2 separate regions of the Homo sapiens genome follow, and region 2 is linked to region 1. The links come from fine-mapping of genetic effects on gene expression. Tissue or cell type: unexposed skin. Region 1 holds a variant in brackets; the other region holds the start of a gene. All regions are shown on one strand. Distances are between the middles of the regions. Region 1 overlaps KCNQ3 (potassium voltage-gated channel subfamily Q member 3). Region 2 holds the start of KCNQ3 (potassium voltage-gated channel subfamily Q member 3).

Evidence for each region. PIP is the estimated chance that this variant, and not a neighbour inherited with it, causes the effect.
Region 2: KCNQ3 starts here. The variant in region 1 is the best candidate, but not a certain one, in a credible set for the expression of KCNQ3 in unexposed skin (GTEx, PIP 0.80).

Annotation. Positions count from the first base shown.
Region 1 is chr8:132,415,139-132,420,512 of GRCh38, forward strand. The region is part of intron 1 of KCNQ3 (potassium voltage-gated channel subfamily Q member 3); the gene reads right to left. Among named protein-coding and RNA genes, the nearest start is that of KCNQ3, 63 kb to the right of the region's middle. RefSeq lists an enhancer at 1-504. The variant C/T (reference allele first, on the strand shown) is at 3,097.
Region 2 is chr8:132,478,208-132,483,581 of GRCh38, forward strand. It overlaps KCNQ3 (potassium voltage-gated channel subfamily Q member 3), which reads right to left and starts at 2,888. Exons shown (of 15, transcript NM_004519.4): 1 at 1,940-2,888. The coding sequence starts at 2,325.

The DNA of each region.
Region 1 (5,374 bases):
CTCCCTCTGAACCATCTACTGCCTCAACCTCCACTCCAGGGTACTTCTCTCTTGTCTTTCATTTCTACTCCTGCAGCCTGCGTTTCCTCCCAGGTCTGCTCCTCAGCCTGATGTCTTTGTCAGCCTGAGTGTAGCAGGCATAAGGATTCAGGAACCTCTACTCCAGTCAGCTCCAGTGCAATGACACCAGAGGAGTGTCACCACCAGGCTGGACAGTGAGGTGTCTCTTGCCCTGGCATTTCCTCTAACATGGTGCTTAGAATGTCACCACCATCACCACCCCATGAGTCTGGGAGCTCTCTGACTGCAGGAGCCAAGTCACCCACCTCTGGATTTCCAGGGCCCAGCCCCCGGCTGCAGAACCAAACAGCAGTGACATTCAGCCTTGTGACTCATGTCTCTGCAGTGACAGTGCTCAGGGACCCAGGCTGCTCTGCAGACCACAGGCTCAGATGGGATTCCATTTCTGTCTGTTCTCTGACTACGAATGTCTCAAGAGCAGCCCCAGGCTCTGGTGCTGTACATGGTATGGACAGTTCTTTTGATGGCCATCAGAGAGAGATAAATCATCGTAACTGTGCATTCTCAACGGGACAAAAAAAAAAGCTACTTAGGGAGCAAAAGCTATCTTAGCTATTGCCATGATTTTCGGCCCTTCAACAGGCCACAGTACATATGCAGCATATCTCTGGCATGAAAATTTCATGGGATTAGGAAGAAAAGATCTAAAAACACTCACCATGGCAATAATCATGAACAAAATATTGAGAAACACTGGTCCATACTACTCATGTGCATGAGAGCCCATCTGGTAGGCACCTCCCAGCTATGCCTTCATTTCTCCAAAGAATAACCAGAGGTTCAGGGAGGTCATATGACTCACCCCAGGCCACAGTGGTGGCACTGAAATAGGACTCAGACCTGGTGCTAGAGGTTCTACCAGAAGACACCTTCCATGTGTGGGAATGAGATGTTTGTCTTGAGGCACTCACGTTTGTTGTTGTTGTTTTTATTTTGATGTTTGTAAGCAAAAAATAATTTTCCTTTTCTAAAAATGAAATTAAGTTCTATAAATATTCATTGCTAAGACGGTATTTCTCTAAACACCATCTCTCAAAATCCCAAACTGGACTTCCTCTTTGGAATTCAAAAACTTATCTTCTCTTTGGAATTCCAAACTTAACAGAGCTTAATAATTCATAAATTCAGTCGGGCACAGTGGCTCATACCTGTAATCCTAGCACTTTGGGAGGCTGAGGCGGGTGGATCACCTGAGGTCAGGAGTTTGAGACCAGCTTGGCCAACATGGTGAAACCTCATCTCTACTAAAAATTAGCCAGACATGATGGCGGGCACCCATAATCCCAGCTACTCAGGAGGCTGAGGCAGGAGAATCATTTGAACCTGGGAGGCAGAGGCTGCAGTGTGAGCTGAGATCGTACAACTGCACTCCAGCCTGCGTGACAGAGTGAGACTCCATCTCAAACAAACAAACAAAAAAAATTCATACATTTACTCAAGAGGTGTATACATCCAGTAGGTACTAGGCATGGGGCACTGAAGCCACAGAGAGGAATTAGATACAAAACCTGCCCTCAAGGGGTTTCCAGTCTAGAGGAAGGTGGTGCCCAGGGCTGGGTCCACGCTGAGAAAAGGTGAGCTCGGAAGGCTGCAGGGTACAGACAGGAAGGCTGGGTAAGTGCAGTAGGCTTTGTGAAGGGTGTCCCTCTGAACTGAAACTGAAAGGCAGGGCAGGTGTTCCCTGTTGGAGCAGACAGATAAACAATCTAAACAGAAGGGCTAACATGTGCAAGGGGACACGTCTGAGGGAGCCTGAAGGGTGGAGGAGCTAACAGTTCTCTAGGGAGAAACTTATGTCCAAGTAGCCACCACCATTATTGGGTCCTCCTTCTGCCCAAAGAAACTGAGCAGAACAAATCTAATCCTCGTTTAACCTGACAGGCTGTACGAGTCTGATCCCATACACTCATGCAAACATTGAAAGTGGGCAACATCCCGTATAGAGACTATTTACAAAGGTGAGGAAAGGTTTAGGGAAATCAACAAGGGAGGGTGAAGCCCCTGGGATTGGCAATAACAGAGAACTGTTACCATCTCTCCAACTAAGGAGGCCAGGGGAGAGACCAGTTGTCAGAAACCAGGAAAACTGATGGCTCTTGGAGGAGCTGTGGCCCACAACAGCCCAACAGGGAGGGGACCAAGTCCTCTCCTCCTGACTCTGACCCACCCATCTCCTGCTGGTTCCTCCTATTGTCTGCATCCAATCAGAACTCAGAGGCAAGGAGGCCACTGGTGAAATTTACAAGTTGAGTCTCCCATGGGTGGAGAATAGATTTGGAGAGGCAAACAGAAAACACCCAGCACATGGACAGCCATGGGAGACATCTACTTTTTTTTGGAAACCTAATCTGCATATAGTCTCTGTTCTGGTGACATACACACTCTATGTGCTGGGGACTTGACCACTTAGCAGCAAGACGGTCATCTGACTCAGACCTGGGCAAACCCATCCATCCATCCATTCATTCATTCATTCATTCATTCATTCCAGGCATGGCACTGAATAAGAAGGATATGTCCGTGAACAAAACAGACTTCCTTCCTAATGGAGTCCAAGCAATGGGAGTGCTCCCGGAATATATGCCAAGCCAGTCATTCAGAACCTAGTTCTGGAACCTCTGTGGACAACAACAGGAAAAAAACGTTCTCTTTCTGTTGGCCTTGGAGTTGAGAGGATGCAGGTCTGGAGACCCATGAGCCAGCCAGAGGGCAGCAGAGTGAGGATGGCTTCAATCCACCCAAGGTCCGTGGTGCAAAAGCACTCCTGGCTCTAGTTGAGGGGAATATTTCTCCACCGAGCCACACCCCCCTCATCTTCCAGAGGAGATTTCCTGAGATCACCGGGATTGGATCAGGGACACGACACTTAGCATGCTGGCACTGTGATTGGGAATAAGAAGGCAGTGCTGGTTTTTTTCTGAGTAAGAACATATTACCCACACTGAGTGACCCACACGAAAACAAGGAGGAAACAATTACTTTGAAGCCTGAGGACAAGATAAATATAAACTCAGA[C/T]CATAGGCTTTCTGAAGAGGAGCGGCATTAACTGGCAGCCAGCAAGAAGGGATCTGTGACAGAGCTGAGGAAACATCCGTGGCTCTGTGTGGGTTTAATGAGGCGTGCTCACGGAAGGCTGGCAGGAGAGCAGAAAAAAGCAGGCGAGGGAGGGAGGAGCTCTGGGTCTCAACCCGACTCTGCCTCTAATGGTCTCTGTGACTAGGGGTAAGTCATTTATTCCCCACTCGGGTTTCACCCTCCTCAATTGCTAAATTTAAAAAGTAGATGGCCGGGCACAGTGGTTCACACCTGTAATCCCAGCATTTTGGGAGGCCAAGGCAGGTGGATCACTTGAGACCAGGAGTTCAAGACCTGCCTGGACAACATGATGAAACATCGTCTCTACTAAAAATATAAAAATTAGCCAGGTGTGGTGGTGCGTGCCTGTAGTCCCAGCTACTTGGGAGGCTGAGGCCAGAGAATCACTTGAGCTGGAGAAGCAGAGGGTGCAGTGAGCCGAGACCATGCCACCGGACTCCAGTTTGGGCAACAGAATGAGACTATGTCTCAAAAAATAAATTAAATAAATTTAAAAACATAAAAATAAAAAGTAGATAGTTGTAAGTGGTGTTGGGGTGTGGGCACAGAGAAAGGTGAGGAAAAGCAGCAGGCAGCATTGTGGTCAGACTTCTGTGCAAGTCCTAATTCAATCTTTAAAAGCCATGTGACGTAAAGCAAGTCAATTTCTAAGCCTCAGTTTTCTCATCTGTAAAATGGGCATTACAGCACCTACCATAAGATACACAAAGATGTAAGTGATCTCCAGCACATGGGAGAAGCATGAGAAAAGCGAGGCAACATCACTGAGAAGAGATCCATCTAAAAAGGTCAATACAATGCCTTCCAGTCCAAAAGCCTAATACTTCGGGAACTAAGGCATGGCAGCACTCTTTGAAGAAGGCAGAAATTCCTTCCACTGCCAGGCTCCCTGCTGAACAACAGTGTTCTCTCACCTTGGCTTAACCACAGCACCTTTCATCCTCTCAATTTTCAGCTGTAAAAACTTTGAAAACTATTAGACCATTTGTCTGGATTTCTGGATTTGCAGGTCACGGGCATCATTGAAGATAGAGCCACCCTAGTAAAATGCAATAATAAATGCAACATTTTTCATTTAATACTGCTTTTAAGAGCATTATCTCCCTCTGTCTTACCATTGTTAATACACTGATGGAAAATTCACACAAAAAACATCCAGTGCCTGAGTCCTGATTCCTGAGACCAGACAGAGCCTTTCTTAGCCTTAAAATGCTTTCCAAGAAAACCATCATGGGGGCCAGAGAAAAGACAATGGACAGCCACACCCATCTCCACCACTGAAGCTGCCTGTGCCCTCAGAGAGTGCTCTCTGTAGATCAGAAAAATGAGAACTGTTTTCTATGTAGCCAGTAGATACAGGTGCTATTCTAGGTGTTGTACCTCAAAACAAATCTTTGATGGTCAATATTATTAGCCCATTTTAGAGATGAGAAAACTGAGGCTCAAAAATCCCGAAGTGACTTTCCAAGGCAACACAGATATTCAGCATCAGTAACAACAACTGATAAGTCCTGTAATTGAGCCCAGTACTGTCTTACCGGAAAACCTGCATTCTTCCAAACATGTCAACATGTCATCTCTTAAAGGATAAAACGAACAGCACTCCCACGTTGGAATACATGGGTACTGTCTCAGTCAGTTTGGGCTGTTATAACAAAGTACCAGAGAGTGAGTAGCTTATAAACAACAGAAATTTATTTCTCACAGTTCTGGATACTGGAAGTCCAAGATCAGGGTGCCAGCATTGCTGGGTTCTGGTCAGGGCCCTCTTCTGGGGTGCAGACTGACACCTTCTCCTTGTGGTCTCATATGGTGGGCAGAACATGGGAGATGGGAGAGGGCTCTGGGGTCTCTTGTACAAGAGAGCACTAATCCCATTCTTGAAGATTCTCCCCCATGACCTAATCACCTCCCCAAAGCCCCACCTCCTAATACTATCACACTTGGAGTTAGGACTTCAACATATGAATTTTGGAGGGATGCATTCAGTCCATAACAGGTTGCCCACCCAAGGGAAGGAATATTTGGGTGGGTAAGTCCCGATGTGCCTTAGAAAACATCACTGCAGTGTCATGGACACAGATGATGAGGGTCCATCCACCTTCTGGGCTGCCACAGCCAGAAGACCAGCCTGGCGACATCTGCAGCTTGCCCTTTTCCCTTGAGCCAGAAACATCCAGCACCAGGACTTGATGTC
Region 2 (5,374 bases), 63 kb after region 1:
AATAATTCTAGAAAAAAATAAAATTGAGGCTCAGTCAGTAACAGCTTTAGCTATTCCCTTCCCCAGACTGGACAAGGCAGGGCTGGAGGTGCTGGCTGGGAAAGGTGGGAAGAGAAGAAAGAGGGAGCCCACATGCTTCCATAGGACCCCCAGGTTTTTCAGTCAGTACGTACTGAACGCGATGTGCATGTGAAAGGACACGTGAATCATTGTATGACTGTGTGCACTCAACGAACTTCTTGTGCCTTTTTTAACTATCACATATTTCAGTATTCACTTCAATTTAACTAAACATATTGCTAGAGACAGAGAGAGGAATGTATTTTAATGCTTTTTTTTCGGCCACCTAAAAAGAGCAAATGAAAGAGCAACAATTGTTAAGCCGTCTCTCCAACCAGACCCCGACCAACACCTGCAAATAGACACACACACACACACATACACACGCACACTCATACAGACACCAACATCCACGTTTCTGGGAAAATGCCCCACTCCCACCCCACCCTTCCTGCTGGTTCCTTAGTTTCCGGGAAGGCACCCTCTCCGGGCTTGGTAACCTCCTTGAAGAAACCTGTTGCTAAGTCTGAGGTCCTGTGTGGACGCCCCCACCTGGTGGCCGAACCTAGAAAAACGTCTCTAACCAAGAAAAACTGGCAGGTAGTGTAACTAACTCCAAGGCTCCTGAGCCCTTCCGACCACATCAGTCATGGGTGAATTGGAGGAGAATAGAGAGGAAAATCCACTGCTAAACGCGTGGGGGAGAGAGGGGGGAGGGGGGGTTGCCAAGGTCATAGGCAATTCCCTGCCAAAACCCTGGTACAGTACAGCTTCCTAGAAGCAGCCATCAGGATGACTAAACCAGAGCCAGAAGGCAGAGCTTGATGGCTGGACGTGCCCTGCCAGCTCCGAGATGGGTGCTGACAGCACAGATTTCCAATCTTGAATGAGGAGCACCCCCACCATCCTCTCCCCCCTCCCAAATACGGGTGGATTTTCCATCCCCAGTGGCAGGTGCAGAGGGAGTTCCTTCTTCCTTCTGGCCATGCATTTACATCGGACTAGCAAGGAGATTCTTTCTAGGAGAACAGTGCCTGGGTGCAAACCTCCAGGCCAAGCCCCTCACATTCCCGGTGCCCTAGGCCAGCCAAAGCAGGAGAAGCAGCAGCGACTGAGGCTGAGGGAATATCGGATCCCAAATCAAGGAGATGTTTCAGCCAAAAGAGTCCCCGGCCCCCTCACCTCCTGGCTCTGTGAAGCCCCAGCCCCTCAGTCTAGGCTTAGACACACACGTTCCCATTCACTTCCCTAAAAGGAATCCTAGAACATGCATTTTGGCCAGTCCCAGCTCCCAGTCAGAGCAGCACCAGGTTCTTCTCTGTACCAGTACCCAGCGATCAGAAGGGTGGCACAAGCAAGCGACACACACACACACACACACACACACACGCTCCCCACTATGGGTGGTGCGCACCCCTCCCATCCCCAACTAAACTCAGTGGCGATCCCAACAGAAGGGATCCACCCGAAACAGAAACACAGAGCTCACGGGAGGACCCGCTTTATCCTCTTCAACCCTCACATTAATTGGAAAAACCCACATAATTATTTTAAGCTTCCAAACCAACACCCCTAGAAGATGTCATAAATGTGCACCCGCGCGCGCACACATCCGCCCAAATCAGCAGGGGAACCACGCTTCGTTTTTTAAGCCCCTAGTGTGGAACACCCGGAGAGCGGCAACACACACACACACACACACACACACACACACACACACACACACCCAGGGAAACGCGTGCTGAGGACGGGCTGGTCTCCCCTTCAGCGGGAAAGCATCCATGGGTCTTAAAGCCCCAGAGACTTCTCAGCTCCAGCCCCGACCCCAAGTCCCCAAGCGCGCCGCCGCCGAGGGCGCCCCGAGCGGCCGGGTACTCACACCAACGCGTGGTAAAGCAGCGCCCAGCCCCGCGGTCTCTCCAGGGCGTCGTAGATCAAAGTTTGGATGCGCCGGTACTTGGCGTTGTTTCTCTTGACTGGGCGGCTCAGCGGGGTCTTGGCCAGGAGCCCGATGCCCTGCGGGGTCCTCCGCTGCCCCTCGTCGCGGCCGCCGCCCTCCAGCAGCAGGGTCCCGTCTTTGTCGGCTCCGGCCCCGAGCGCCAAGGTGACTTGCTCCACGTCGCCGGGCGCCAGCCCCACTTTCCGCTCCTCGTCGCCGGCCGCCGCCGCGTCCCCTCCGGCTGGGTTAGCCGCCCCGCCGCCTCCGCCGCCCCCGTCGCCGCCGCCGCCAGCCGCCCCCGCCGCCCTGCGCGCCTTGAGCCCCATCTGCCTCGCCCCCGCCGGCCGCTTCGCCTTCTCCGCTGCTGCTCTGGGAAGAAGGGGCGCTCGGGGTGCGTGAACGAGGCGGCGGCGGCGGCTGCAAGCCCGGGAACTCCAATGCCATGATCCGCGCGCCCCTCCCCACCCCCCCCCAAAAGCAGGCAAAGGCGGGCCCCCTGGGGGGCAGGGGAGGCCAGGCAGGGGGTCAGGGGGTCACATCCCGCGCGGGTCAGCCGCAGGACCCCGAGGGTCGCGGGCCGGGGGCTGCGGAGAAGCTGGGAGGGCGCGCGAGGCTGGCGCGGAGGCGCTAGGGCGCGCGGCGGCGGGAGCCTGGAACCGGCGCTCCGGGGCGGCGGCGGCGGCGGCGGCACCCAGGCCGGCGAGCCCAAGACAGCATCGCAGTTTATTTACAAGCCCGGTGCCAGCCGCCCTCCCGCCCGCCAGCCACACGCGCCGCCGCCGCCGCCTCCTCCCTCCTCCGCGCTCCCACCCGCGCCCCTCCCCGCCCGTTCCAGCCTCAGCCTGTCAGCAGCAGCAGCAGCGAGCGCGCCGCGGGCCGAGAGCACGCCGCGTCCCTCCCTCCCTCCTTCCCCGGGGTGGGGCCCCATTGTCCCGCCCCGTCGCGGCGGGAGGCCCGGGCGGCGGCGCCCCGCCTCTTCCCGCCGACCCCCACCGCTGATTGTCTGGGGACCCAGGATCGCCTGGGCTACCGCCGCCCCCGTTGCAACCAGGCAGTGCGCCAGGCGGCTGCAGAGCCCGGCTCCTGGAGCTCCCGTGGGCGTTGGGGCTTCCCCTGGATGGGGCGTGACGGCGGGCAGTTGGGGGAAGAAGAGGAAGGGAGGAGGGACTGGGGGGTTGTCGCCCACCAAACATTGGCTCTGTGGTTGCAGCTTTGTGAATTTCCCTCACCCCCTACCCCTGCTCCTCGGCTTCAGAGGTAAAAGCCAAGTTGTCGGGTTGGTCAAGGCCGGGCGCACCGCGAACGCACCTGCTCTGTGGTAGCGAAGCTCGTGACTCCCTCTTCCCTCTTCCCTCTTCCCTCTTCCCTCTAGTTCGTGGTTCATGGTGGATGCCGCGGCCCTCTCCTCCCCCAATCTTTGAATAGCACCTTCACCTGTCTGGGTGGGCAAAGGACTGAAGAAATGCAGTCAGAATCTTTGATTCCTGCTTTGCTCCCGACTTGCACCCAAGCCAGTCATTCCCTCTCTGGTCCAAATTTCAATTCAATCAACCAATCTGTAACCCCTCGTGAGCTTCCCTGGCAAAGGGTAGTGATCTCTGTCCTGAAGATATGAGGTCTCTGCACTCCTAAGACCTCCGTCCTAGCCGGTGGAAGACAATGAAAAGACAAATTTTAACAGTAGAATTTCCGATATTGGTAAATAGTATGTGGTAACAAATTAGAGTGCTGCGCTATAGTGACTGGGGGAGTCACTCTAAACCGGCTGGTCGTGGAAGGCCTTATTGTGGAGGTGATGCTTCGAGGTGAGACCCTAATGACAAGCTGGGAGCAACTATGTAAATGTCCAGAGAGCCCTCCAAACAGCAGAACAGCGGGTGCGGAGGGGAAGGGTGGCTTGAGCTTAATGAGAGTAGGCCACAGGCAAAGGCTAGATCTTGTAAGACACTGACAAAGGACAGGAGCATCCTGCACTTCTTCCATGCCCACCGCCATCGGGGAAGCCTCCATTCCTGCTGCCCCATGGCATCTGTGGCCTCCTTTCCTTCCCACTCTCTCACCTCATGTCTGTCAGCTGGGGTGAGAGACATGGGGTGAGGGGAGACCCTGTGAACAAGGCCGAGGATCTATCCCTAGTGTATAAGAAAAGAGGAATCAGACCTGCAAGAACACCAGCTCTGGATTTGCCTGGAGAAGTTGGCCAAGGAGAGCATAGGAGACAGGGAAGGGAAGAAGGAAGGGAAGGGAGTAGGAATGTATGGGCTGGGGCAGGGGAAGGGTCAGAGAACCACCACCCTATAGAATGACTATCAAAGGGGAGAACCTCAAAAGAGGTCTCCAAATCAAGAAGGGAGGAGTTTCCAGAGGAAGTTAAACTGTAAGACTGAAATCATTAAAACAGTGTGGGATCGGTACAAAAATAAACTCTCAGTGCAACAGAATTCTTTGTCCAGAAACAGACTCTAGCATGGGAACTTAATATTAAACGGGAAGAGTTCATGACAAGAACCCCAGGGGAAAAGGCTGTTCACTGGTTGATGGGTTTTGTGAGGAATTATAGGAAATAGCATATGGAAACGTGGCAGTGCCCAGTAGGACCCCTGTACATCCGTGAATAGATAAATGCTCAGCAGTGAGTTGGAGTAAGTAACCAGTCCAGCAGGCTCTGGAAAGGAGAAAAAGCCCAAGGAAAGGGAATTGCTTGGATCAGAATATCTCCAAATGGGAGCTGGGCACTGCAAAGCCTCCTCCTGCCCATGTGTTAGCCCTGCCATGCCCAACACACCAAACTCACGTGTATTCTTCCTGTCCTACTCCCATCCCAACTAACCAGGAAACAATCTTGCCCTTTATCTCTGAGCACCTTTTCCAAAGTCGCTGTTCTCCCTCAGTCTCTTCCTGTTTTGTTCATTCATTACATTTATCACTGCCAAAAATGATCGCATTTACATTCTGTTTACTTGTTTACTGTTATCTTACTAAACAAGAGCAGGGACTAAGCATCCTAGTTTTGAATCCTGGAAGTGTGTCTGTCATATCACAGGCTCTCAATCTGTGTTGGCAGCATGAATAAATGATGAATAAGCGAATGAAGAGTGTAAAGCTCTCAGCACAATGCCTGGCACACAAGCATTCCATGTATGTTTGTGGGTGAGATTTTTGTTTGGTTTCGTTTTACCATTGTGAAAGTCTTCATACTTAGGAAGTCTTGCTGCTCCTTTATGCTCCTTGCAACTTAAGAAACATGATAAAAACATTTTGACAGTATTTAAAATAAAAAGGCTCACTAGATAAACATAAAAAGAAGACGAGTCAAGGAATGTGGAAAGAAGATGTGAGAATTTATTATTGTGCAATTAATCAAAAGTTCAGATT